2 linked regions of the Homo sapiens genome follow. The protein of the gene in region 1 interacts with the protein of each later gene in a pairwise test. Each region holds a gene or a part of one and is shown in the gene's direction. Other genes may lie near its edges. The genes, in order: CRLF3 and KCTD21.

Region 1 (15,878 bases):
TTAACTTAACCAAATTGACATAGTTTGTGAATGATGAAACCAAGATTTGGCTTATTCTATCTGACTTGAAGGGCAGTTCTGTGTACTTCTGTCTGTTTGTGCAAATGAATCACATTTGGTTTATCAATGAATGGAAGATGTATATATACAATGGAATGCCATTCAACCTTAAAAGAGAAGGAAATTCTGTCATTTGTGACAGCATGGATGAACCTGAAGGACACTATGCTAAGTGAAATAAGCCAGATACAGAAATAAACATACTGCACGATCTCATATGTAGAATCTAAAAAGGTCGAAGTCATAGAAGCAGAAAGTAGAATGGTGCTTGCCAGGGATGGAGTTGGGGATGGGGAGATGTTGGTCAAAGGGTACAGAGTTTCAGTTATTTAATATGTGTAAATTCTAGAGAGCTCAAGTACAGGATAGGGACAATAGTTAATAATAGTGTAATGTATACTTGGAATGTGTTAGGAGAGATCATAAGTGTTCTCACCACACACAGAGGTAACCATGTGAAGAGATGGACATGTTAATTAGCTTAACTATAGTTAACAGTTCACTATGTATATGTGTATCAAAATATCACACCTTAAATATAATTTCAGTTAATCTTTTTTTTACTAAATTGAAGAAGATGGTTATACAGTGCTTTTAGATTCATGTGAATTATACCTTTGGATTAGCCTTTTTTAAAGATTCTGATTTTGAGTATTTTGTTATTTCTTTTTAGATCAAAGAAAGTGCATCACAGACAAGGGATGTTCTCAAACAGCATTTTAATGATTTAAAGGGAACCCTTGGAAAGCTCCTGGATGAGCGATTGGTGACCCTTTTGCAAGAGGTGGACACCATTGAACAGGAGACCATTAAACCACTAGATGACTGCCAGAAGCTCATAGAACACGGAGTCAACACTGCAGAGGACTTAGTCCGAGAAGGTGGGGGACCAGGGAGCCTGTTGTATTAGTGCATTCGTCCATTTTCACACTGCTGATAAAGACATACCTGAAACTGGGCAATTTACAAAAGAAAGAGGTTTAATGAACTTACAGTTCCATGTGGCTGGGGAGGCCTCACAATCATGGCAGGTGAAAGGCACATCTCACATGGCGGCAGACAAGAGAAGAGAATGAGAGCCAAGCGAAAGGGGTTTCCCCTTAAAATACCATTAGATCTCATGAGAGTTATTCACTACCAAGAACAGTGTGGGAGAAACTGCCCCCATGATTCAATTATCTCCCACCGGGTCCCTCCTGCAACACATGGGAATTATGGGAGTACAATTCGAGATGAGATTTGGGTGGGGACACAGAGCCAAATTATATCACAGGTTAAATGTGGTTCGTTCAGATTGACATTTTGCTGATTTCTCAGGATAGCAGCAGGCTTCTTGCCAGCTGTGGGGTTCTTAGAATGTTCTTACCTAGAGACAGTTTGTAATATAGGATGACAGATATACCGTTAGGTATCGCATGGCAAGTGCAGTTGAAGTGTTAGTTATAATTAGTTATAAAACAAGAAAGAATAAATGATATGGGGCACATTGAGATGTTTTGATACAGGCATGCGGTGTGTAATAATCACATTGTGGAAAATGGGGTATCCATTCTCTCAAGCATTTATCTTCTGTGTTACAGTCAATCAAATTATATATATATATATATTTTTTTTTTGACACAGGGGTTTTGCTCTGTTGCCCAGGCTGGAGTGCAGTGGTGCTGTCAGAGCTCACTGCAGTCTTGACCTCCCTGGCTCAGGTGATCCTCCCACCTCAGCCTCCCAAATAGCTGGGATTACAGGCGCGTCCCACCATGCCTGTAATTTTTTAGTATTTTTAGTAGAGACAGGGTTTCACCATGTTGCCCAGGCTGGTCTCGAATTCCTGGTCTCAAGCAATCTTCTCATCTTGGCCTCCCAAAGTGCTGGGATTACAGGCAAAAGCCACCACAATTACAGTCTCCATTGTTTTATTTAGAAAGTTTAAAAAAATGTGATTGGTGTTTACTCCTATCTTTGCCAATTATTTCCATTGAGTCATGCCCTGCTGCCTTCCTTTCTTCATTATACCACCTTCCTTCAACAGAGATCTTTGTCAGGCACATAACATAAACAAGGGGGCCAGGTGTGGTGGCTCACGCCTGTAATCCCAGCACTTTGGGAGGCTGAAGCAAGTGGATCACTTGAGGTCAGGAGTTTAAGACCAGCCTGGGCAACAGCCTGTCGCTACAAAAAAAAAAAAACTTAGCTGGGCATGGTGGCATGCACCTGGAGTCCCAACTACTTAAGAGGCCGAGGCGGGAGGATCCCTTGAGGCCAGGAGATTGACACTGCAGTGAGCCGTGATTGCACCACTGCACTCCAGCCTGGGTGACAGAGTAAGACCCTGTCTCAAAAAATATAAAATAAGACTAAGAATAAAGGCCGGGCACGGTGGCTCACGCCTGTAATCCCAGCACTTTGGGAGGTGGAGGTGGGCGGATCATCAGGTCAGGAGATCAAGACCATCCTGGCCAACATGGTGAAACCCCGTCCCTACTAAAAATACAAAAATAGCCGGGCGTGGCAGCGCATGCCTGTAGTCCTAGCTACTCGGGAGGCTGAGGCAGGAGAATTGCTTGAACCCGGGAGGCGGAGGTTGCAGTTAGCCGAGATTGCACCACTGCACTCCAGCCTGGGTGACAGAGTGAGACTCCCTCTCAAAAAAAAGAAAAGAATAAAATAGGTGAGAGTTCTTTCCTTTGGGATTCAGAGCCCAGTGAGAGAGAGATACATGCTAAGAGATCAAGACCTTATTGGAGCATAGAGGAGGAAGTTCTTAACTTTGTCTGGAATAGTGTGGGATAGCTTTCTGTAGGAAGAGTTCCACAGAGGCTTGAAGCAATTCATCCAGCAGACATAGGAAAAAGAGGAGGTAACAGCATGATTCCAAGCAGAAGTAACATTATCATAAGTGGAGTGAATGGCATATTCAAGGATTAGTTGAAGCATTTTAAGCAGCAGAGTGACAGGATCAGATGTGCATTTAAAAAAAAAATGACCCTGCCTATTTGGAGACTATGTTAGAGATTGTAAGACTAGAGGGAAAAGAGACTGATTAAAAAGTTATTAGAGGCCGAGGCCAGGCTAACACCTATAACCCCAGCACTTTGGGATGTCAAGATGGGAGGATCACTTGAGGTCAGGAGTTTGAGACTAACCTGGCCAACATGGTAAAACCCCATCTCTACTAAAAATACAAAATTTAGCCAGACGTGGTGGTGGGCACCTGTAATTCCAGTTACTCGGGAGGCTGAGGCAGGAGAATCACTTGAACCTGGGAGACAAAGGTTGCAGTCAGCCAAGATCACAACACTACACTCCAGCCTGGGCAACAGAGTGAGACTCCGTCTCAAAATAAAAAAAAATTATTAGAAACTGGGCACGGTGGTTCATGCTTGTAATCCCAGCACTTTGGGAGGCTGAGGCGGGTGGATCACTTGAGCCCAGGAGTTCAAGACCAGCCTGGGCAAGATAATGAGACCCCATCTCAAAAAAAAAGTTATTAGAAAGTAATCCAGGTAGGAATGGTAAAGGCGGTGGCTGGTAAAGATGAGGCAGGGCTGATTTTAAGAGATTTTGAGCCAGGCACAATGGCTCACACCTGTAATCCCAGCACTTTGGGAGCCTAGACAGGAGAGGAGGATCATTTGAGGTAAGGAGTTCGAGACCAGTCTGGGCAATGTAGTGAGATTGTCTCTAATTTTTTTAAAAAAAAATAGCTAGGCGTGCTGAGCACAGTGGCTCACACCTGTAATCCCAGCACTTTGGGAGGCCGAGGCAGGCATATCACAAGGTCAAGAGATCAAGACCATCCTGGCTAACACAGTGAAACCCCATCTCTACTTAAAATACAAAAAGTTAGCCAGGCATGGTGGCAGGCGCCTGTAGTCCCAGCTACTCGGGAGGCTGAGGCACGATAATGGCGTGAACCCAGGAGGCGGAGCTTGCAGTGAGCCTAGATCGTGCTATGGCACTCCAGCCTGGGCGACAGAGCGAGACTCCGTCTCAAAAAAAAAAAAAAAAAAATTAGCCAGGCATGGTGGCACACACAAGTTGTCCCAACTACTCAGGAGGCTGAGGTGGGAGAGCTTGAGCTATGATTGCAGCACTGCACTCCAGCCTGGGCAACAGAGCAAGACCCTGTCTCTTAAAAATAAAAACAAAAAAACAAGACAGAGTTTTTTTTTTTTTTAAGAAGTAGAATTATTGATGATTTTACTGAGCAGTGACTGTTATCTGTAGATGATTACCTACATATGTGATGGAGGGGAAAGGAAAGGATTTGTGATAACAAAAATCAGCCTACTTTTGGATTCTGAATAAATAGTGGTGCTGTTTTTGACAAAGGAATTGAAGGAGAAGGCGGGTGCTTAGTACGTAGTTAGGCATTTGGCTTGGGCATGGTGAGTTTGAGGTGCTTAAGATGGAAATACGGGTATGATTCTTAGGAGAGAGATCATACCAGGAGATGTCAGTATGGCAGTTAATGGCATATATATCAAATCTGAATCTATTGGAATAAGTACAATCATCAAGGGACACCGTGTAATGTGAGAAGAGCAGATGAAAGAGATTAGAACGCTAAGGGTCACCAACATTTAAAAGTCATTTGAGGAAAAAGGAGCTAGGGAAGGAGACTGAATTCCATCTCTTCTGCAGAATGAGTGCTGGGAGTGGTGTGGGAAAAAGGCGTGGATGATTCACATGGCTGTCACTCCACCTGGAAGTTAATCTTCTTTTGGTCCCACTTAGAATATAGTATGGGTGTTATCTTGACATTGCTGGTTACATTTTTGTCTTGTCTTCAATGAGAAGTGTTTATTTGCCACTGACCATAACAGTACTTTTGAGAAAATTCTAGCAGTACCATGAAATGTCTTTCCTTGGTGGCTTTGCATTTGGAAACAAACCCAGAAGCAGTGCACCACGGGCCAGGAGTGTACACTCATCACCCTGAGGACTGATCATTTGTTTTTATTTTAGAAGATAAATCCTGGCCGGGCGCGGTGGCTCGTGCCTGTAATCACAACACTTTGGGAGGCCGAGGGGGGCGGATCATCTGAGGTCAGGAGTTCAAGACCAGCCTGGCCAACATGGTGAAACCCCGTCTCTACTAAAAATACAAAAATTAGCTGGGCATGGTGGTGGGCACCTGTAATCCTAGCTACTCGGGAGGCTGAGGCAAGAGGTTGCAGTGAGCTGAGATTGCACCATTGCACTCCAGTCTGGGCGACAAGAGCAAGACTCCATCTCAAAAAAAAAAAAAGATAAATCCTGGCTGGGCATAGTGGCACATTCCTGTAGTCCTAGCTACTTGGGAGGCTGAGGCGGGAGGATCCCCTGAGCCCCAGAGTTTGAGGTTGCAGTGAGCTGTGATTATACATCACACTCCAGCCTGGGTGACAGAGTGAGACTCTGTCTCAAAAAGAAAAAATCCCTTTGAGGCAGTGTGAGTGTTACAGCATTTGATACTTGAATATTTTTGTATGTCCAAAATTTAATTTAATTAATTAACTTATTTATTTTTGAGATGGCGTGTTGCACTGTTGCCTGGGCTGGAGTGCAGTGGCACGATCTCAGCTTGCTGCAGCCTACGCCTCGCAGGTTCAAGCGATTTTCCTGCCTCAGCCTCCCGAGTAGCTGGGATTATAGGCGCCCGCCACCACGCCCAGCAAATTTTTTGTATTTTTAATAGAGACAGAGTTTCACCATGTTGGCCAGGCTGGTCTAGCACTCCTGACCTCGTGATTTGCCCACCTCGGCCTCCCAAAGTGCTGGGATTACAGGCGTGAGCCACTGTGCCTGGCCTATGTTTTTTAATTAAAAAAAATTATTATACATCTCAGCAGCAGAAGGAAACTTTAGGAATATTTTTAATGTCAAACTCTTTCCTATTCTCCTGAGGGATAGAAACTTACTTATGGAATTTTGAGGATTTTATTTATTTATTTACTTATTTTTGAGACAGAGTCTCACACTGTTGCCCAGGCTGGAGTGCAGTGGCACGATCTTGGCTCACTGCAACCTCCACCTCTCGGGTTCAAGCGATTCTAGTGCCTCAGCCTCCCTAGTAGCTAGAACTACAGGAGCGTGCCACTATGCCCAGCTACTTTTTGTATTTTTAGTAGAGACGGGGTTTCATCATGTTGGCCAAGCTAGTCTTGAACTCCCAACCCCAGGTGACCCACCAGCCTCAGCCTGCCAAAGTGCTGAGATTATAGGCATGAGCCACAGTACCCGGCCATGTCTCTGTTTTTCTTTTGGTGAAGGAGAAGGTCATATGGTCTCAAAAAACTTGAGTAACTACAGGGCACATTTAGATGGAAAAGAGTTCTGGCAGTGTTCTTCAGGGCTGTGGAAGGACATAGAAGTTGGTCATTTTCATATCATATGCCTCTATGTAACTTTTTTTTTTGGCGGGGGGGACGGAGTCTCGCTCTTTTGCCCAGGCTGGAGTGCAGTGGCGTGATCTCGGCTCACTGCAACCTCCATGTCCCGGATTCAAGTGATTCTCCTGCCTCAGCCTCCCTAGTAGCTGGGAATACAGGCACCTGCCACCACACCCAACTAATTTTTGTATTTTTAGTAGAGACAGGGTTTCACCATGTTGGCCAGGATGGTCTTGATCTCCTGACCTCGTGATCCACCTGCCTCCGCCTCCCAAAGTGCTGGGATTACAGGCGTGAGCTACCGCACCCAGCCTGACATTTTCTTTTTATTGTTCTGTTGAATAATTTGTAATCTGATATATGATACTCTTTTAGGAAAACATAGATGCATCATTTGGCTTTTCAAGCCTTATGCCCAGCCTGGGCAACATAGTGAGACCTCATCTCTACCAAAAAAAAAAAAAAAAAAATAGCTGGGCATGGTGGCGTGCACGTGTGGTCACAGCTACTTGGGAGGCTGAGATGGGAGGATTGCTTGAACCTGGAAGTTCAAGGCTGCAGTGAGTTATGATCCTACCACTGTGCTCCAGCATGAGTGACAGAACAAGACCCAGTCTCAAAAAAAAAAAAAAAAACACCCTATCCCCTGTTGCACCTCTCAGGGCAATATTTTGTACTGGCTCCTATTGAAGTTCATAATGATTCTGTAGGAGAGATGGAAAGAAGTCCCTGGGCTTTCTGCTTTGCCTAAAATTGGTTGATTTCCTTGTATAGAGTAGATAGATTTTTCATCTCTGGCAAAATGTTGCCACTGTATATCCCTTTTCCTCTTGGATTTGATCTTAGAGTCACGTCTAAAATAGTTTCTACTTTAACTTTTTGGGAATTTGACTGTGGCATCACTTAAGAACTTATTTGCAAGAACGCTAGAGACCCACCCAGACATGAGTTGTGTTGATTACTTTATATGTGACCATTTTCATTGTTCTAGTTCTCTTATTCTTGATTGTAGGTGAAATCGCCATGCTTGGTGGTGTGGGAGAAGAGAATGAGAAACTGTGGAGCTTTACCAAAAAGGCCTCGCACATTCAGTTGGACAGGTAAAAGAGTTTGTGCCTTTTTGACTTACTTTTAAGCATTTAAACTATGTCTGCTTTTTTCCTCCCTCTGTTCAAGATTCTCATTAAGGGAGATAGAGAATATATATTTCAAGGTTTTCAGACCATGCGTGGTGGTTTACACCTGTAATCCCAGCACGTTGGGAGGCCAAGGCGGGTGGATTGCTTGAGGCCAGGAGTTTGAGACCAGCCTGGCCAACATGTTGAAACCCTGTCTCTACTAAAAATATAAAAATTAGACGGGCATGGACCTGTAATCCAGCTACTTGGGGAGGCTGAGACAGGAGAATTGCTTGAACCCAGGAGGCAGATGTTGCAGTGAGCCAAGTTTGTACCACTACACTCCAGCCTGGGCAACAGCAAGACTCCATCTCAAAATAAGTATAAAATAAAATAAAAAATTATCCGGGCATGGTGGCGTGCGCCTGTAAGTCCCAGCTACTCGAGAGGCTGAGGCAAGAGAGTCGCTTGAATCGGGGAGGTGGAGGTTGCAGTGAGCTGAGATCGCACCACAGCACTCCAGCCTAGGGGACAGAGTGAGACTCTGTCTGAAAAAAAAAAAAAAAAGCGTTTCACTGCCCATTACCACTGTTACTAATGAAATAGTTGTGATTATAATCCTTGGTATAGTATTACTACACATTTTTTCAATCCAATATATAAAAGAATTGTTAAATTTTAGAAATTATCAATGTATTGTTGAAATGGAGTCATATTCCAGTAAACCAGATCTTTTGGCTTAAACTGGACAGTTATGATCCTACCAATTTTCTGTCTTACTTATATTTATTTGAAAAGAGAATCTTTGTGTAACATCTTGCAAATCCCCTACTGCCATGAGAATTAATTACTGGGGGCTTCAGGATCTTTCAAGCATGTGACTGCTCTAAAATATTTCTTGTATTTTTTAACTCTCAGTTAGAGGTCTCATAACACATGAGCTTTGTTTCCTCAGCTTACCAGAAGTACCTTTACTGGTTGATGTGCCTTGTTTATCTGCTCAGTTGGATGACTCAATTCTTAACATAGTGAAAGACCACATTTTTAAGCATGGAACAGTAGCATCTCGCCCACCAGTACAGATAGAAGAACTAATAGAGAAACCTGGAGGCATCATTGTACGATGGTGTAAGGTATGTAATTCAGAATTCTAGAAATGACTTCCACATTATGGGTTTGCGATTTGGAGGCCTTTCAGATTTTTTCGTTGACTACTTTTAAATACATTCTTTTCTTCTCAAACAAAAATCTCTTTTACTTTACAGTTAAAATGAAGTCACATGGAACACTGAGGTAGCTCTTCCAGTTTTATTTTTATTTTATTTATTTATTTTTTGAGACAGAGTTTTGCTCTTTCACCGAGGCTGGAGTGAAGTGGCGTGATCTCGGCTTACTGCAACCTCCATGCCCTCCCCCGCCTGCCGCTTCCCCCGGGTTCAAGCCATTCTCCTGCTTCGGCCTCCTGAGTAGCTGGGATTATAGGCACCTGCCATCACACCTGCCTAATTTTTGTATTTTTTGTAGAGACGAGGTTTCACCATGTTGGCCAGGCTGTTCTTGAACTCCTGACCTCAGGTGACCCACTCGCCTCGGCCACCCAAAGTGCTGGGATTATAGGTGTGAGCCGCCGTGCCTGGCCTTTTTTTTTTAAATGAAGCCTTGCTGTGTCGCCCAGGCTGGAGTGCAGCGATGCAACCTCCGACCTCAGGTGATCTGCCCACCTTGGCCTCCCAAAGTGCTGGGATTACAGGTGTGAGCCACTCCGCCTGGCTGACATTTTCTTTTTTTTTTTTTTTGAGACAGAGTTTCGTTGTTGTTGTTCAGGCTGGAATACAATGGCACGATCTTGGCTCACCACAACCTCCGTCTCCCGGGTTCAAGCAATCCTCCTGCCTCAGCCTCCCAAGTAGCTGGGATTAAGGCATGCGCCACCACACCTGGCTAAGTTTGTATTTTTAGTATTTTTGTATTTTTAGTAGAGACAGAGTTTCTCCATGTTGGTCAGGTTGGTCTCAAACTCCCGACCTCAGGTGATCTGCCCACCTCGGCCTCCCAAAGTGCTGGGATTACAGGTGTGAGCCACTGTGCCCAGCTGAGATTTTATTAAAAGGAAATTTTTTTTTCTTTTTTTATAAACATGCTGTTGTTATTTTCTAACAGGACTGTCATTCCATTTTTATTATTTTTCCTATCAGTGGACCTAGTTATTTCCAGTTTTTTGCTATAAGTATTTTTACTTGTGTTTCTTTATGGACATATGTGAAGTTTGTAAAATATTAATATTTACCTAGGTGTAAAATTATGAGGTCTTCTTAGAGTATTGGATCCATACGCTGATAGGTAATAACAAACTTTCCACAAGATGATTCTATCAATTTAGCCTTCCAAGGAGTATATGAGTTTCTGTTATTCCATATCTTGACCAATAATTGGCATTGTGAGACTTTATATTTTTGCCTAAATGTACCTTGTTGTGGTTTTATTTATTTGTTTGTTTTTGAGACAGGGTCTCACTCTGTCACCCAGGCTGGAGTACAGTGGCACAATCATGTCTCCAGTCTCAATCTCCTGGGCTCAAGTGATCCTCCCGCCTCAGCCCCCAAGTAATTGGGACTTCAGGCATGTGCTTCCACAGCCAGCTAAGTTTTGTAATTTTTTGTAGAGATGGGGTTTTGCTGTGTTGCCTAGGCTGGCCTCAAATTCCTGGGCTCAAGTGCTCCACCCGCTTCGGCCTCTCAAAGTGTTAGGATTATAGGCATGAGCCATCATGTCTGGCCTTGTTGTGGTTTTAGATCGTATTTGCCATATTACAAATTAGGTACAAATTAGGTTGAATATTCATAATATACATTTTTGGCTATTTATGTTTCTTCTCCTGTAGAACGCTTATTTATGTCTTTTACCCATTTTTCTATTGGGTGGCTAATTAACATACAGAATATATGCAGGACCCCTAAAAATTAATGGGGGTTCTGTATACTGTATGTTAATTATCTCTTGGTTATTATGAATGATGTATGGTTGTGGGAGACTTACTGAATCTTGAATGTTTTATCTTTGGCATTGATTAAAAAACATGCCATTTCTTCAAAGGAGGCAGACTTTTTTATATCAGACTGGGAAATACAGAACACATGGTTCAATAAAGAAAAGAAGGGAGCCCAGGCGCAGTGTCTCACGCCTATAGTCCTAGCACTTTGAGAGGCTGAGACGAGAAGATTGCTTGAGCTCAGGAGTTAAAGATCTGAGATATGGTGAAGCCCAGTCTCTACAAAAAATACAAAAAATTAGCCGGACATGGTGGTGTGCACCTGAAATCCCAGCTACTTGTGGGGTGGAAGGAAGAGGATGGCTTGAACCCGGGGTGTGGAGGCTGCAATAAGCCGAGATCACGCCACTGCACTACAGCCTGGGTGACAAAGTGAGACCCTTTCTCAAAAAAAAAAGAAGGGAGATAATGATGTGATGGCATATTTTCTATGGCCTTCCCAAGAATACCCCATATTCAGCATGTGGGCCTGTCTGCTTGGTCCAAAATGGCTCCGTTCAAAATTTTTAAGCAGTGATGCTGAGAGAAGTCATTTTCTGTTTTTTACCTAACATAAAGCTTTTCTCCCTAGGTGGATGATGACTTTACAGCCCAAGATTACAGGCTCCAGTTTCGTAAATGTACTTCAAATCATTTTGAGGATGTATATGTAGGTTCTGAAACTGAATTCATAGTATTGCACATAGACCCCAACGTTGATTACCAGTTCAGAGTCTGCGCCCGAGGAGATGGCCGACAGGAGTGGAGTCCTTGGAGTGTCCCCCAGATAGGTCATTCCACATTGGTGCCTCATGGTATGCTGCTAACCTTTTCTCTCCTGAAGCCTAACTATATATTAGAATACCTGTATTCTGTGCTAAGGGCAGCACACTGACAACCAGCTATTCTAAGCATAGATCCTGAATTGATAAGAACAACATGCACCATGTCTTTTACTCAGATTACCTCATGTGATTTTTGTTTTCATCAGTTCTTCAGAGTCCAAAAAAAATGCTGGACAAGATTTTTAGCCTCATTGAAAACCAAAGATTGAAAATATTATGTAGGGCACTGATATTCCTTTTTATTCTTTTTTTTATATTTGAATGTTATTTAGTTAGTTTTTTTGAGACAAGGTCTCACTCTGTCGCCCAGGCTGGTGTGTGGTGGTGCAATCATGCAGCCTGACCTCTAGATCCTTCTGCCTCAGTCTCCCAAGTAGCTGGGACCACCTGCATGCACACCACACCTGGCTAATTTTTTATTTTTTTCTAGAGACTGGGTCTTGCTATGTTGCCCAGGCTGGTCTCAAATTCCTGGGCTCAAGCAATCCTCTTGCCTCGGCCTCCCAAAGTGCTGGGATTACAGGCGTGAGCCACCGCGCCTGGCCTATTAATTAGATTTTTATCAGGTTGGAATAAGTTCAAGCAATTATGCTTGTACAATGATTTTATTAGATAAGAGATAACACTTGTGTGATTTATTATGTCAAAATTATGCAGGAATATACTAAAATCTTTTGTAATTTGTGGGACTGATCATGATACCCTGTTAATGGAATCTTTTATTTTATTGAACTTGACCATGGCCCCTAAGAGTAGTCTCCCATTTCCATGTTTTATTTAACGTGTCTGTATTGAAGATATCCCTCAAGAGATTCTAACAGTTTTCAATATCTTTGCTTTGAAAAAGAGTGGACAGCTGGTTTTGAGGGGTACAGTCTGAGCAGTCGAAGAAATATAGCACTTCGGAACGATTCTGAATCATCGGGTGTTCTCTACTCCAGAGCTCCGACTTATTTCTGTGGGCAGACATTAACATTCAGGCAAGTAGATATTAAAACATCTCACCTGCCTCAGGAAGCAGAGTGAAGTGCATAGAGCATACATAAGCTTTGAATTCAAAACATCCTGAGTTTATTCCGTCATTTATAGGCAGTGTTACTGTGGGAAGGCTTCTTTATTTCCTGTAGCTGTAGTTTTCTCATCTGTATTCACAGGGTTATTACGTAGATTAACTGGGAAATGTATATAAAATGCTTGTTATTTAATATGTTTATATCTCTTTTCCTCTTGGTAAGTAGAGGTAAGTAGAGTATCTCTCAAAAGTCAATCTTAGGCTGGGCATAGTGGTTCACACCTGTAACCCCAGCACTTTGGTAGGCCGAGGCAGGTGGATCACCTGAGGTCGGGAGTTCGAGACCAACCTGAGCAACATGGAGAAACCCCATCTCTACTAAAAATACAAAATCAGCCGGGCATGGTGGCACATATGCCTGCAATCCCAGCTACTTGGGAGGCTGAGGCAGGAGAATTGCTTGAACCCAAGAGGCAGAGGTTGCAGTGAGCTGAGATCATGCCATTGCACTCCAGCCTGGGCAACAAGAGCGAAACTGTGTCTCAAACACACACACAAAATTAAAAAGTAAATCTTAAAAATTTAGAGGCCTGGCCAGGCACGGTGGCTCACACTTGTAATCCCAGCACTTTGGGAGGCTGAGGCGGGCGGATCACGAGGTCAGGAGATTGAGAACATCCTGGCTAACATGGTGAAACCCCATCTCTACTATAAATAAAAAAATTAGCCGGACATGGTGGTGGGTGTCTGTGGTCCCAGCTACTCGGGAGGCTGAGGCAGGAGAATGGCGTGAACCCGGGAGGCGGAGCTTGCAGTGAGCCGAGATCACGCCACTGCACTCCAGCCTGGGCGACACAGCAAGACTCCGTTTCAAAAAAAAAAAAAATTTTAGAGGCCAAGAGACTGGACGCAGTGGCTCACACTTGTAATCCCAGCACTTTGGGAGGCCGAGGCGGTTGGATCACTTGTGGTCAGGAGTTCGAGACCAGCCTGGTCAACCTGGTAAAACCCCATCTTTACTAAAAATACAAATATTAGGACAGGCGCAATGGCTCCCGCCTGTAATCCCAGCACTTCGGGAGGCTGAGGTGGGTGGATCACAAGGTTAGGAGATCAAGACACCACCCTGGCCAACATGGTGAAACCCCATCTTTACTAAAAATACAAAAATTAGCTGGATGTGGTAGTGCACACCTGTAATCCCAGCAACTAGGGAGAGTGAGGCAGGAGAATCACTTGAACCCGGGAGGCAAATGTTGCAGTGAGCCATTGCACTTCAGCCTGGCAACAGGGCAAGACCCGTCTCAAAAAGAAAAAAAAAATTAGCAGGGTGTGGTGGCACACACCTATAATCCCAGCCACTCAGGAGGCTGAGGCATGAGAATTGCTTGAGCCTGGGAGGCAGAGGTTACAGTGAGCTGAGATCGCGCCACTGTACTCCAGCCTGGGTGACTGAGCGAGACTCCGTCTCAAAAAAAAGAAAAAAAGCATAGGCCGGGCACTGTGGCTCATGCATATTATCCCAGCACTTTGGGAGGCCGAGGTGGGCAGATCACGAGGTCAGGAGATCGAGACCATCCTGGCCAACATAGTGAAACCTCGTCTCTACTAAAAATACTAAAAATTAGCTGGGTGTGGTGAGGTGCGCCTGTAGTCCCAGCTACTCGGGAGGCTGAAGCAGGAGAATCACTGGAAGCCTGGAGGCGGAGGTTGCAGTGAGCAGAGATCGTGCCACTGCACTCCAGCCTGGGAGACAGTGCAAGATTCCGTCTGGAAAAAAAAAAAAAAAAAAAAAAAAAAAGCAAAAAAATTTACTGGCCAAGAATTTGTTTTGTCCTTTGTGAATCATTAACAGCAAGTCTTTGTAAGAGACAACACTGTAAACATATTATGTATATGCTACTCTCTAAAGTAAAACTGAAAGCAAGCCTCCCCTACCACTAATTAATGTTGTTTCTCTACCCATTTCTTTCTGTAATGGAAAAGTTTCTTTTTTCTTGTTTTCATGTTATCTGAGATGTATTCTTTATAGTCATGTTTCTGAATAGCTCTTCGTAGAAACTAAAGACCAGTTTTGACTTAGAGAAGTAAAGTTTGCCTGATTTTCACCATACTCACCTTAGTGTAACAAGCTCTCCTCTAAGTTTTAAGTCTTGAGATGGGATTTTATTGTGAATGCTTGACCCAAGTTCCTTTTGTTCTCAGGCCCTTATTATTTAAGGCATGGAGAATATCTGAATATTTTATCTAAGCCAGTGTTGCTGTATTCCTCTCCAGCTAAGTAATTTGAATTGTCAGCGGTTGTCAGATTATACTAGTTTGTTTTGTCTAATTTTTGACACCTCACCCCTTAATGAAGAATGACTCAGTAAACAGAAAAATACCAACAAAGAGAGAGAGAGGAAAAAAAAAAACAACTAATACCTAAAATCTATTTAACTATTCCCCAGGTAATCATGAGTTTTCTGTACTTACATACCCCTTCTCTGCTTATGTCCCTTGTTTACAGAAGCACTTCGGTTAGTGACTCTCCTGAGAACAAGGTATTTCTGTGCAATGACAGAGCTTCCTAACTTGATAAATTCAGGCCAGATATCTCAGACTGCAATAATGATGATAATAATAATAATTGCAGTTAATATTTAAACAGTATTTACTATGTGCCATGTACTGTCTTAAGTATTTTACTTGTATTAACTCATTTGATTTTCATGGTAACCCAGTGAGATAGATGGGTTATTTATTTTAGGGATGAGGAAACTGAGGCATAGAGAAGTTATTTACCCAGTGTCACACAGCTAGTAAATGCCAAAACTAGGGTTTAAATCCAGGCAGTTCGACTCCAGACTGGTCTGTATTGCTTCTTTTTCATGGGAGAGTTAACATGATTCTAGTTAGTGTTGAAGTCTACAGTTTCTCTATTACTGTGTCCTTAGCTCTTTAACTTTTACCTCTTATGACCTTTCACCACTTGATCTGATGCTCTCCTGCTTTTTAAATTCTTCCTCCTTGGACACATGGTAATGTCTGATAGATTGCATAGTTAGGTTTATTTCTTAGACCATTCAGTAAATATTTATTAAGACATTGGAAATTATACAAATTGATTTAAATTCACCTCTGCTGACCGTGATGTGAAAGACACATTAGGTCTCAATAAACTGTTGAGTCTCTCTTGCATCTCCTAAAGATGCATCACCAGGCCCCACTTGGCAGGGTGATTAACTGAAATTCAGTTAAACTCAATATAATGGTAGCCAGCCTTTTGCATTTTTGTCATTTTTTTCTTTGTGGAATGAAATGTTTTCTCCCCTTGTTTAAAGGAATTTCAGGCATCAGCAGTGAAGCCAGAGATGTGAATGCAAGGGGGACTCCATGCATAAGGGCATAAGGGAGGAGCAAGTGCGCCTACTTGAATCAAGAGAAACAATATTTAGTTTTTTG
Region 2 (13,398 bases), on another chromosome or scaffold:
AGCCCAGGAGTTCAAGGCCAGCCTGGGCAACATAGTGAAACCCCATCTCTACAAAAACTACAAAATTTAGCATGGTGTGGTAGCGTGCACCTGTAGTCCCAGCTACTTGGGAAAATCACCTGAGCCTGGGGATGTCAAGGCTGCAGTGAACCATGATCGCGCCACTGCACTCCAGCCTGGGCGACAGAGTGAGACCCTGTCTCAAGAAAAAAAAAATTCTAATTGCCCAAAAATACCTTATATAGTTTCTGGTTTTTAAAATCAGATCCAGTCAAGATGTACATATTGCATCCTATTATATCTCTTTTATCAACTCATTTAATCTAAATAGAGCCCCTTGGCATGGTAGCTCATGTCTGTAATCCCAACATTTTGGGAGGCTGAGGTGGGCAGATCACTTGAGGTCAGGAGTTCGAGACCAGCCTGGCCAACATGGTGATACCCCATCTCAAGTAAAAATACAAAAATTAGCCGGACATGGTGGTGTGTGCCTATACTCCCAGCTACTCAGGAGGCTGAGGCAAGAGAATTGCTTGAACTCAGGAGGTGGAGGTTGCAGTGAGCCGAGATTGTGCCACTGCACTCCAGCCTGGGCAACAGAGTGTGACTCTATCTCAAATAAATAAATAAATAAATAAATAGAGCTTCTCCACCTATTTAAATATGTTTGATTGGTTTATCAATGATTAGATTGGGGTTAGATTTAAGTTTTTGGCAATGTGTGTACTTACTGCATGTCAGGAGGATATGATGTCAGGGTCTTACTATCCATGAATGCTAAATTTGATTATTAAGGTCATGGCAACCTGATCTCTCTATCGTAAAGGTAAATTTTTCTCTCTTACAATTAATAAGTAATCTGTGAAGTGATTCTCTGAGTCTGTTATAATTATGTGTTCCTGATAACCTTTCACACCACATCCTTGGATGATCCTTGCTTGAATTACAACACTGAGGGTTGCAAATTGGTAATTTTCTAATTCTGCCATTCCTTCTGTGTTTATTAGTGTTCTTTTTTATAGAATTAATTTTTCCTGGCCGGGTGCGGTGGCTCACGCCTGTAATCCCAGCACTTTGGGAGGCCGAGGCGGGCGGATCACGAGGTCAGGAGATCGAGACCATCCTGGCTAACAAGGTGAAACCCTGTCTCCACTAAAAATACAAAAAATTAGCCGAGCGAGGTGGCGGGCGCCTGTAGTCTCAGCTACTCGGGAGGCTGAGGCAGGAGAATGGCGTGAACCCTGGGAGGCGGAGGTTGCAGTGAGCCGAAATCACACCACTGCACTCCAGCCTGGGCGACAGTGAGACTCCGTCTCAAAAAAAAAAAAAAAGAATTAATTTTTCCTGTCTCTATCTTTCTCACTCCCTTCTTCTCACCCTCTTTTTTCTTTTGGGAATAACATTATGGACTCTTGTTTTTTGTTTGTTTGTTTTTGAGATGGAGTCTCACTCTGTTGCCCTGGCTGGTGTGCAGTGGCACGATCTTGGCTCACTGCAACCTCCACTTCCCAGATTCAAGCGATTCTCCTGCCTCAGCCTCCCAAGTAGCTGGAATAACAGGCGCACGCCACCCCGCCCAGCTATTTTTTGTATTTTTAGTAGAGATGGGGTTTTGCCATGTTAGCCAGGCTGGTCTTGAACTCCAGACCTCAGGTGATCCGCCCGCCTCGGCCTCCCAAAGTGCTGAGATTACAGGCATGAACTACCGCACCCAGCCTGGACTCTTGTTTTGTTGTTGTTGTTTTTTAATTCACTGGGCTATATGAACTCACCTTGAACTTTTCCTGTGAAAGTCCAGGAATCATCAGTTTCTCCAGGAAGCCCTGGTTTCTTTTAGAAGAGATGATGACATTCAGAAACAAAGATCCAGGGCTAGGTGTGTTTATTGCTACTGGGTGTCATTTCTAGGCTCTGTGAGTGAGCAGAGCTAGGAAATGATGGATAGGTGATTGATAGATAGATGATAGATGGACAATTTTCATTACTCAGTACATTTATTGTTACAACAGCTAGTCCCCACTGACAGGATTGCATGGTAAGTCATTTCATTATGGAAGTAATGCTCATTATGGAAGTGGACAGTAATGTAGGAAAAAAGGAAATTGCACAGAAAAGAGCTCTTGCCTACTCCAGGTCGCCATGAGTATACAGACTGTTGGCTAGGACCTCTGTGGCTGGGTTCAGCTTCCTGCCGAAGACGTCTAAAGGACTGGTTCTCTGAAGGGTGTCCAAACCAGAACTTCCCAGAGGCCATGACTCTGAGGTCAAGAATCCACATGAAGCCCTGGGCAAGGGATTCACGCTCTTTGGGTCTGCTTTAGGTTGTCTTTGAAACAAAGACAATGTAATCGGTCCTGCCTGGGTCCCAGAGTTGTAAGGATCAATATATTTATCAATATGTTTATTTTTAAACATTGCTAGTTGTGTCTCTTCACATTTATTACCAAATTCCTTCTCTTCTCATTGTTTTAAAACCACAGAGGGAAATGTCATTGCTTTATAATCTAGTTTAATACATTGCGCTAAGATGTCTTATTCAAATACTCTTTCAGGTTATCAGTCATCAGTGCTTCCAGATTAAAATTTTAATTATTTAAATCTTTTTTGAAAAATACTATTGGGATTTGGATTAGGATAGCATAACAACTATAATTAATTTTGAGGGGGGGGGGGTGCTTTGGGATAAGGCCTGGCTCTGTCACCCAAACCAGAGTGCAGTGGCACAGTCTTGGCTCACTGCAACCTCCACCTACTGGGACAAAACCAATTATTAAAATAGAAGAAGTTCCTATAGCTATTATCACTTGGGAAATTACACAGTTTTTAGCCCTGGCCAACAGCTGGGGACAAATCTAAAATGTATATTGCTTATTATATCACAGTATCACACAACCCCTCCCCTGAGTGCAAGGCGGTGACTATGCAGACGTGAGACATGCAGTTGCTCTCAGCTCACAAACTAGGCAGTGGTTTCCAAAAAAAATTGTTTTGTCAGCCACAGTATGAAGATACCATGATCCAGTTCATAGACACACAACTGAAACAAAAGTTTCACAACAATATATAATTGGTTACAACCCACTTAACTGTATTGATGTCATGACTTGCCAATAGGTCACAACCTTCATTTTTTTTCCTGTTTATGGAGGTAAAACTTAAGTATGGTAAAATTTACACTTTTTTTTTAATTGAGACAGGGGTCTTACTATGTTTTCCAGGCTGGTCTTGAACTCCTGGGCTCAAGTGACCCTCCTGCCTCGGCCTCTCAAAGTACTGGGATTATAGGCATGAACCACCACAGCTGGCCACAATTCACCCTTTTAGATGTGTATGGTTACATGAATTTTGACAGTCTTTATAAACACATTTGACCACCACCACATCATATTACTTTTGTGCCAACCTAATAGAATATTCCCATCACTCCAAAATATGCCTTGTGTTTCTTTGTAACCAGTCTTTTCCCTCCAACCCAGCCCCAAGAATTCACTTAATCTGATTTCTGTCTTTATAGTTTTGCCTTTGCCAGAACGTTATACAGATAGAGTCATGTACCATGTAACCTTCTGAGGCTGGCTTCTTTCACTTGACGTAATGCTTTTGAAATTCATGTATGTGGTAATGTCTTTTAGTAGTTCCTATATATTGCTGAGTCATATTCTATTGTATGGATGTACTGCAATTTATCTGTTTACAATTAGTTGTTTCTGAGTTTGGGCAATTATGAATAAGCTGCCATAAACATTCACATATGAGTCTTTGCATGGACATATGTCTCCATTTCTCCGGCATAAATACCTAGGAGTAGGGTCATTGGGTCACGTGATAATTGTATGCTGTATTAGTCCATTCTCACACTGCTAATAACAACATACCCCAGACTGGCTAATTTACAAAGGAAAGAGGTTTAATTGACTCACGGTTCCACAGGACTAGGGAGGCCTCAGGAAACTTAAAATAATGGTGGAAGGGGAAGCAAACATGTCTTTCTTCACATGGCAGCAGCAAGGAGAAGTGCCAAGCGAAGGGGGAAACCCCTTATAAAACCATCAGATCTCTTAAGAACTCACTATCACAAGAACAGCATGAGGAAAACCGCCCCAATGATTCAATCATCTCCACCTAGTCCTGCCCTTGACACATGGGGATTATTACAATTCAAGGTGAGATTTGGGTGGGGACACAGAGCCAAACCATACCATATGTCAAACTATTTTCAACAGCGGTTACCATTTGTCAGCAGTGTATGAGGTTTCCATTGTTCTATGTACTCACCTTCAATTGGCATTGTCAGTTTTTATATGAGCCACTAATAGGTATATAGTAGCATATAATTGTGGTTTCAATTTTCATACTCTCATGACTGATGATATTGACCATCTTTTCATGTGATTGTCAGTCATCTGCATATCTTCTTTGCTGGAGTATTTGTTAGATCTTTTGTCTAGTTGTTTTGTTTTTGTTTTTGTTTAAGTAGAGATAGGGTTTCACCATGTCGGCCAGGCTGTTCTTGAACTCCTGGCCTCAAGTGATCTGCCCGCCTCAGCCTCCCAAAGTGCTGGGATTACAGGCATGTGCCACTGCACCCAGCTTTATGTGTTTTTTAATTGGGTTATTTTCTTACTGAGTTTTGAGAGTTCTTTATATATTCTGGTTAACAATCCTTTATCAGATAGGTGTTTTGCAAATATTTTCTCCATCTGTGTCTTATTCTTTCATTTTCTTAACAGTGTCTTTTGAAGAGCAGAAGTTTTTTACGTGGATGAAGTCTAGTTTATTGATGTTTTTAATGGTTTGTCCCTTTTAGGTCCTATCCAAGAAATCTTTGCCTAATCCACAGTTGCAAAGATTTTCTCCTAGAAGTTGTGTAGTTTTAGATTTTATATTTAGGTCTATGATATGTTCTGAGTTTATTTTTCATAAACAGCATAAGAGATGGACCAAGGTTCTTTTTTTCCCCATATGGATGTCCACTGATCTGCATTTTGAGATAGCCAGGGAAGAGGGCCATGTGCAAAGGAGATCGCTGCAGGTGGAATGCTGGGTGCTGCCAGAGGGGGTTGTGCAAGGCACCAGGAAGCCCTGAGAGGAGAGCTGTTAACCTAGTGGAGATCTGGGGACAGTAGTACAGAGGTGATGACTCATAGGCTGGGCCTGAAAGGTAGACAGCAGAGAGGGTAGAGAAGGTAGACAGGGGTGGTCTAGGGACAGCAAAGGCAGGGCAGGTGTCAGCATGAAGGAGACTGACTCAGTGGCGTCTGGCGTGCGTGGAGGGCAGGGTTAGACATGAGAGGGAAAGAGGAAGGTGGTTGGGCAGGGACGGTACTTCAGGAAGGTCAGTCTGCAGACCAGAAAGGAAGGTGGACAGAAGGCAGGGAGCCGAGTGAGGATGTAGGGGTGCAGGGGGCAGGGATGAGGCCTGAGCTCTGGGAGTAGCTATAGGGATGGGTTCAAGGAGATAGTCAAGACAAACTGTAGGGCTGAAGAGTCGGGGCTGCTTCCCTCAGGCAGTTGGGTGGCTCAGAAGAGTTCACAGCAGAGTTAGGGGCAGAGGAAGGCACAGGTGAGGCTTCTGGTACCTGTGTTACTGGTGGAGGGTCTTGACTAGGAATTTTCCAGGTCCTTGGCGTTTTGAACAAAGTAGCAGAGGGGCAGACGTGGTAATCCCCACACTTTGGGAGGCCTGGATGGGCAGATCACTTGAGGTCAGTCCAAGACCGGCCTGGCCAACGTGGTGAAACCCGTCTCTACTAAAAAAAAAAAAAGTAAAAATAAAAAGAGTAGCAGGGGAATGAAATGCAGGAATGAAGCAGTGAAAGCAGGAATTAAAGTGAGAAAGCACTCCTCAGGGTGGGAGTGGGCCGGAGCAAGGAACTCAAAGGCCCAGTTACAAAGTTCTCTGGGCTTTAGGTACCCCATTTGAGGTTCTTATCAGCTACTCCTTATCTGGACGAAGGATTTAGTCTGTGGCTAATTAAAGGCTGAGGTGAATGGGCACCCTATGCAGATAAAGGGATGGTCCCAATCCAAGGCCCCCCTCCCTTTCCACCTGAGACATGGTGGAGTGGGAGGGTTGCAAAGAGGAGCGTTTGATCCTTTGTCACCCAGCTGGGGCGATGGCGTTTTTCCTCTTGGTTCAGCTTTAGGAATTTGGTGTTAATTGGTCTTAGGGTCCCTGCCCCCAGACCCAGGATTTTCCTTCTGATCCAGCTTTGGGAAGTCAACAGAATTGGCCTCAGATTTTTTGCCCCAGACCTTGGTGTTTTCTCTTTTATGAAGTTAGCACAAATTGGCCTTAAGTTCCTTGTCTCCAAACCTTGTTCTCCTGCCTCACTTGCAGAATATCCAAGTGGAGGTGGCCAGGAGGCATCTGGGAACACATAGGGGACTGAGGCTCAGTGGTGTTAGTTCATTACTACCTGACTGCAAACCTCCGCCGACTCATGAAACTCCCCTCGTGTCATGTCATTTTGCCTTTTGTAGCAGGGCCGTGGATTTGTGATGATGGACACTGTGGCCCTGTGGCTAGAAAATAGGGGCTTAGACCAGGCACGGTGGCTCACGCCTGTAATCCCAGCACTTTGGGAGGCCGAGGCGGGCAGATCACAAAGTCAAGAGATCGAGACCATCCTGGCCAACATGGTGAAATCCCATCTCTACTAAAAATACAAAAATAAATTAGCCGGGCCTGGTGGCGTGCACCTGTAATTGCAGCTACCCGGGAGGCTGAGGCAGGAGTGTCGCTTGAATCTGGGAGGCAGAGGTTGCAGTGAGCTGAGATTGCGTCACTGCACTCTAGCCTGGCGACAGAGCGAGACTCCATCTCAAAAAAAAAAAAAGAAAAGAAGGGCTTAGAGGACTGAGCTCTGTGACTGGATAGGTAAGGGGAGATCACCACAGAGAGCACCCTAGACTCGGAGCAGGAGACCTGCCTGCTAGCCAGCCTCTGCCCTGACTGCCTGTGCAACTGTGCTGCTCTCCCCAGACAAATGACCGGGAGCCATGACGTCATCGGGGGCGCAGGAAAGCAGGTGCTCTGCTGCTTTTGCAAGCAGAGAAATAAGAGTTTGGGCACCTACCCAGGGGTCCCAGGGAATGCCCTGTGGCTCCTGACCTCCCCCGCCTGTAATGCTCTGAGCACTTCAGCAGTAATGCATGGAAGAGATAAGGGTCTGTGACCCATGGAACTGTCCAAGTCCTCTCTGACACCCGCTTCTTTTCCTGCCGTGAAGGTAAGCCACTTTATAGATCCTAGGCCTGAAACCCAATGTTGGGAGGGAGTGTTTGTTTTCAAGAAGAAAGAGAGACTGAAACTAGAACATGCACATTTCTATCCAGAAGAAAACAGTTGGAGTAGACTAGAGTCCTACAAAGAGGGCAACAGGGAAGAAGATTCTGGACTGAGTAAAGGGGACCCACTCCTGGGTCCACCTCCTGCCTGGGCCCTCTGGAGAGAGAATTGGCCAGATTCAGCCCTGAGTCACAGCACCCTCCCCAGTTGCTGCCTCACAGCCATCTCCACACCAGCAGCCATGCCCCCAGCGGCAGCTCGCCCACACCTCTGTGGGACCTCCCCACCGTCTCGCAGCCCATCTGCTCCAGGCTTCTACTGACGATTTCGTATTTCACATGGACTCATTTCTCCTCAGACACTCCAGATGGGGAATGCCTTTCTGCAATATCAAAGTGCCCCATTAGACTGGGGAGGAATCATGAGGGGACATACCCCTGCCCCTGCCACAGAGTCGAGCATGGCAGCTGAATATCTCTCACACTGGCATGGCCCCCATCCTCTGGAGAAAGGAGGCCTCAGTGCAGTCAGCCTCTTCAGGAGGCAGAAATGTTGAGAAGTTCTCGCCACCCCTGCTGGGTGACTTTGGGGAGGTGTCTCCTCAGACCTCTGTTTCTCCATCTGGACGGTAAGCATGCTTGAAAGGTTGGGTTTTTGTTTGTTTTTTGAGACCGGATCTCCCTCTGTCTGCCAGGCTGGAGTTCTGTGGCGTAATCACGGCTCACTGCAGCCTCAACCTCCCAGACTCAAGCGATCCTCCCACCTCAGCCTCCCAAGTAGTTGGGACTACAGGTGCTCGCCACCACACCCTGCTTTGTTGTTGTTGTTGTTGTTGTTGTTGTTGTTGTTGTAGAGACAGGATTTCGTCATGTTGGCCAGGCTGGCCTTGAACTCCTGAGCTCAAACGATCTGCCCACCTCGGCCTCCCAAAGTGCTGGAATTACAGGCATGAGCCACTGTGTCTGCCAGCCAGATAGTTTTTGATGTGCCAAGGTTCATTCCAGACCATCTCCCACATCTTCTACCTGTCTTGTCACTGTGCCTTTACTCTCTCATCTCCTCTACCAGCACAGGCTCTTCTGGGGGTAATACTGGGGCCAGTTCCTCTTGGCATCCCTACCTGCCATGTCAGGGAAGGATTGCTGAATCTGGTCCACAGGTTGGCTCTGGGGAAAGTATAGTGTTGGAAGCTGGAGCTGAGATCTCCTGTTTTCTAGAACATGTGGTGAAGGAGACTTGCCAGCCATAGATGCTGACAGCTGAGAGATTAGGGGGGCTTTGTTAAGGAGTGGATAGGGTGCCTTCAGGAGAGTGCTCTGACAGAGTCCTGCATTTGCACTGACCTTGCAGCCAGTTTCAGAGAAGCTTGGGGTGTTATGACAGCAAAGGACAGGCCACCAGGAGCCAAGAGCATCTTCATGGCAAGGCAAGTCAGCATGGGAGCAGTGAAAGTCTAGAAAGGATTGTCATTCACATGCACACGTATGTTTATTGCGGCACTATTCACAGTAGCAAAGACTTGGAACCAACCCAAATGTCCAACAATGATAGACTGGATTAAGAAAATGTGGCACATATACACCATGGAATACTATGCAGCCATAAAAAATGATGAGTTCATGTCCTTTGTAGGGACATGGATGAAATTGGAAATAATCATTCTCAGTAAAGACTACTGCAAGGACAAAAAACCAAACACCGCATGTTCTCACTCATAGGTGGGAATTGAACAATGAGAACACATGGACACAGGAAGGGGAACATCACACTCTGGGGACTGTTGTGGGGTAGGGGGAGGGGAGAGGGATAGCATTAGGAGATATACCTAATGCTAAATGACGAGTTAATGGGTGCAGCACACCAGCATGGCGCATGTATACATATGTAACTAACCTGCACATTGTGCACATGTACCCTAAAACTTTAATAATAATAAAATTTAAAAAAATTTAAAAAAAACAGGATTGTCATTTGCAGTCCGGACAGCTGAGTGACCCACTGTGGGCCTTGAAGATAGATGGAAATGACACTAATCATGGCCATTCATTGTCAAATCTTTGAGAGAGAATAATAATTAAATTCAGCAGTGTCACTGGTACAGAAGGAGGAGCACTGAGCCTGGAGTCATAAATCTCAAACCATTTGTTGAGTACTTAGAACCGATCTTTGGCTAGTAAGCATTTACACATTTTTCTTTCATATAAAAGGACCTGAGTTTGAATCCTGGCAAGGCACTTCACCTTTCTGAGCTTGAGGAATGAATCCTGGCACAGTTTTCCTCATCTGCACAACAGGAATGGATGATTATATTGTCTGTGTCAAAAGATGATACAACCTTTTTTTTTTTTTTTTTTTTGAGACAGAGTTTCACTCTTGTTGTCCAGGCTGGAGTGCAGTTGTTCAGTCCCGGCTCACTGCAACCTCCACCTCCTGAGTTCAAATGATTCTCCTGCCCCAGCCTCCTGAACAGCTGGGATTACAGGCACCCACCACCATGCCCAGCTAATTTTTGTATTTTTAGTAGAGATGGGGTTTCACCATGTTGGCCAGTCTGATCTTGAACTCCTGATCTCAGGTGATCTGCCCGCCTCGGCCTCCCTAAGTGCTGGGATTACAGGTGTGAGCCACCGCACCTGGCTGATACAACTATTATGTAAGCAAATATATGTATAAACACGTAGCATAGCTTTCAGTCCAGGCACGTTTTCCTTTCTTTCTTTAGACCAGTGGTTCTCTATTCTAACTGAACATTTAGAATCACTAAGGGAACTCTTTCAAAATACCAGGGCTGGGGCAGTATTCCAGACCAATTAAAATAGAATGTCGGCAGCAGAGGGGGGCGCGGGGGACCCAGGCTTTAGGGGTCCTTCCCTTTCTTTCCCTGTTTCCTTTTTCCTTTCCTTTTCCCTTTCTCCTTTCCCTCTCCCTAGTGAAGCTAATGTACTTTGCACAGTGTTAGCAATTATCACCCATTCATCAGGTATTAATTCATTTCGATCCCAAGGGCATAGGCTTGATGTACAATAAGGAGTTAAGGACTGTGAGTTCTCTGATAAGGTTTGGTTATAGTCATTTCTCACTTCTCACCCTCTCCAGGACTACTTCCAGCAACCCAGTCTCCTGCCATGTCCGACCCCATCACGCTGAACGTCGGGGGGAAGCTCTATACAACCTCACTGGCGACCCTGACCAGCTTCCCTGACTCCATGCTAGGCGCCATGTTCAGCGGGAAGATGCCCACCAAGAGGGACAGCCAGGGCAACTGCTTCATTGACCGTGACGGCAAAGTGTTCCGCTATATCCTCAACTTCCTGCGGACCTCCCACCTTGACCTGCCTGAGGACTTCCAGGAGATGGGGCTGCTCCGCAGGGAGGCCGACTTCTACCAGGTGCAGCCCCTGATTGAGGCCCTGCAGGAGAAGGAAGTGGAGCTCTCCAAGGCCGAGAAGAATGCCATGCTCAACATCACACTGAACCAGCGTGTGCAGACGGTCCACTTCACTGTGCGCGAGGCACCCCAGATCTACAGCCTCTCCTCTTCCAGCATGGAGGTCTTCAACGCCAACATCTTCAGCACCTCCTGCCTCTTCCTCAAGCTCCTTGGCTCTAAGCTCTTCTACTGCTCCAATGGCAATCTCTCCTCCATCACCAGCCACTTGCAGGACCCCAACCACCTGACTCTGGACTGGGTGGCCAATGTGGAGGGCCTGCCAGAGGAGGAGTACACCAAGCAGAACCTCAAGAGGCTCTGGGTGGTGCCCGCCAACAAGCAGATCAACAGCTTCCAGGTCTTCGTGGAAGAGGTACTGAAAATCGCTCTGAGCGATGGCTTCTGCATCGATTCTTCTCACCCACATGCTCTGGATTTTATGAACAATAAGATTATTCGATTAATACGGTACAGGTAAAAGGACCCCAACAACACTGGAGATGGGGAGTCCCAGGAAGCTCATGTCAGCCAGGTCTTGGAGGGCATCTCGCCAGTGGTGCGAGGCAGGGGACTATACTAATCTGTATTAATTGTGTAGCAGGACTTGATTCCCCCCATGATGAAGTCCACCTTTTGGAATCCAGTGTCCTCTGAACAGAACCACCTTTTTTCTTGCCATTTTGAGCTGCAGACAGGCGGTTTATTATGACAAGTGAAGAGTCAGCTGATGTGTACTAAAGGAGGCCATAGGAGGATTTTCCAGCCAGGACAAAAGAGCAGCAGTTTTCTCCTGGGCTCCATCTCTCTGTACCGCTAGCCAGTGCCGCATTTATCCATCTGTAAGAAGGCCCTGGTGGAGAGGATGGGATGAGAACAAGAGGCTACCTCCAGTTAACCAGGACATAAAGTCCCCAGCGGTTCCTGTCACACCTGCTCCTCCCTCCCCAGGGTGCATCCATGATCGTGGATGTTTGCCCAGGGGTGACCATGTTTGGCTGGCTTGGAATGCTGTGCATTCTCAGAGCTCTGTTAGTGTCCCCTCTTGGGGGTCAGAGATGAGGTGTGGCAGGGTCTAGAGGAATGAGTGTCCAGGCAGAGTTCAGAAGGTAGGAATGTCCCTCTTGATAGGGCTGAATCAAGGGATTCCTGGCTTTAGAAAGGGTCTGCTATCTTTGCAAAAATGTGCAAGTATCTGTAGCCAGTGTAATGAAATCACTTCCAAATCCAGCCTGTTACCTGACTTTTGTCATTGTTTTCCCAAAAATTTGAGGTATCATTGAAACAGGTCATTTTAAACAAATCTATTACGGATTCTCAGGGTTGGAAATAATTCGATGATTGCTTAGTCCTCCCCCACCCCTAGAACACCCCAGCACATCTGAAGATGAGCGCCTCTCCCTGGGTACCTGCAAGTGATCACCTTGGCCTGCTTGCATACCTTGGCTGATAGGAAGCGCGCCATCCCCAAGGCAGCTCCTGCTGTGGTTGGACAGTGCTGACTGTTAGACAGTTCTTCCCTATATTGAGCCAAAATCTGTCCTGCCACTTGCTGGATCTTGGTTGCAGACCTTCCCATTCACCCAGTTATATATCTTTGCTTTCAAAATAGTCACCTTGAGAGACCAGACATTTTTCTGAAAACATCATTACTCAGAATTCAGATTCCCCTCTGGGATCTGTCTTCAGAATCAAAGTTAGCTCTTTTCTATCCCCTGTAAGTCAGTCCCCTTTTGTTGTAGCTTCACCTCGTTTGTGACCCCCACTTCACCCACCTTCCCCACCATCTGTGGCTCCATATACCTTTCGACCATTTTCTGCTGGAAGAGGAAGATTCACGGCCCCTGAGGAGATCCAGAGGAAAGAGACGGTCTCCAAGGGTGCTGTGCAGCAAGGAGCCCAGGAGTGGTATGAACCGTAACAGTGCCCTTAGAGTAAATGTGCGGCCCCTAAGACCCTGCCCTCAGGAAGGCGGCCTTCCCCTGCAGTCCTGTGTCCCACCCCTGGGTCTCTGTAGGGTGCCATCCAGGGCAAGCAACCCAAGCACTGCTTCCCACCGGGTGATGAGCCATGCAGGCCTCCAAACTGCACGTCATGATTCATCCCTAAAGTGAGTTTGGCCTTGAGAGTCCCCAGGGTCCTCCCCCACTGGGCAGGGGTCCTCAAAGCCAAGGAAGCCTGGTGACACAGGCACCCATGGGAGGTGGGCCCAGAAAGGGGCTTCCCATAGATAGGCCCTGTGAGTAGGGAGCTTGTACACTGGGCCATGGGCAGCGCCAGTTCCCTTGAGCAGTAAAGGCCCTTTTCCCCCTACGGTGGGACCCAGGAGTCTCTCTGACAGCTTTTCTGCCAGGCACAGTGGCTCATGCCTGTAATCCCAACACTCTGGGAGGCCGAGGCGGGAAGATCACTTGAGGTCAGGAGTTCAAGACCAGCCTGGCCAACATGGTGAAACGTCGTCTCTGCTAAAAATACAAAAATTAGCTGGGTGTGGTGACAGGCGCCTATAACCCCAGCTATTTGGGAGGCTGAGGCAGTAGAATCGCTTGAACCCAGATAGCAGAGGTTGCAGTGAGCTGAGAGTGTGCCATTGCAGAGAGACTCCATCCCAAAAAAAGACAGCTGTCCCAGGCCAAGGGTACTTGGGAGAGCCCCTCATGGAGAACCTAGTTTAGACCAA

What was found.
Region 2: the proteins of CRLF3 (region 1) and KCTD21 interact in binary tests that used the Homo sapiens proteins (3 or more experiments, as listed by UniProt).

The regions. Positions count from the first base shown.
Region 1 is NC_000017.11:30,788,964-30,804,841, reverse strand, and holds part of CRLF3 (cytokine receptor-like factor 3), read left to right. Parts: intron 1-733; coding exon 734-941; intron 942-7,443; coding exon 7,444-7,531; intron 7,532-8,504; coding exon 8,505-8,682; intron 8,683-11,169; coding exon 11,170-11,392; intron 11,393-12,011; exon of another isoform or gene 12,012-12,269; coding exon 12,270-12,402; exon of another isoform or gene 12,403-14,204; intron 14,205-15,878. UniProt on the Homo sapiens protein: May play a role in the negative regulation of cell cycle progression.
Region 2 is NC_000011.10:78,171,573-78,184,970, reverse strand, and holds part of KCTD21 (BTB/POZ domain-containing protein KCTD21), read left to right. Parts: intron 1-6,985; exon of another isoform or gene 6,986-7,840; coding exon of another isoform or gene 7,841-7,919; intron 7,920-10,387; coding exon of another isoform or gene 10,388-10,416; coding exon 10,417-11,199; 3' UTR 11,200-13,398. UniProt on the Homo sapiens protein: Probable substrate-specific adapter of a BCR (BTB-CUL3-RBX1) E3 ubiquitin-protein ligase complex mediating the ubiquitination and subsequent proteasomal degradation of target proteins. Promotes the ubiquitination of HDAC1.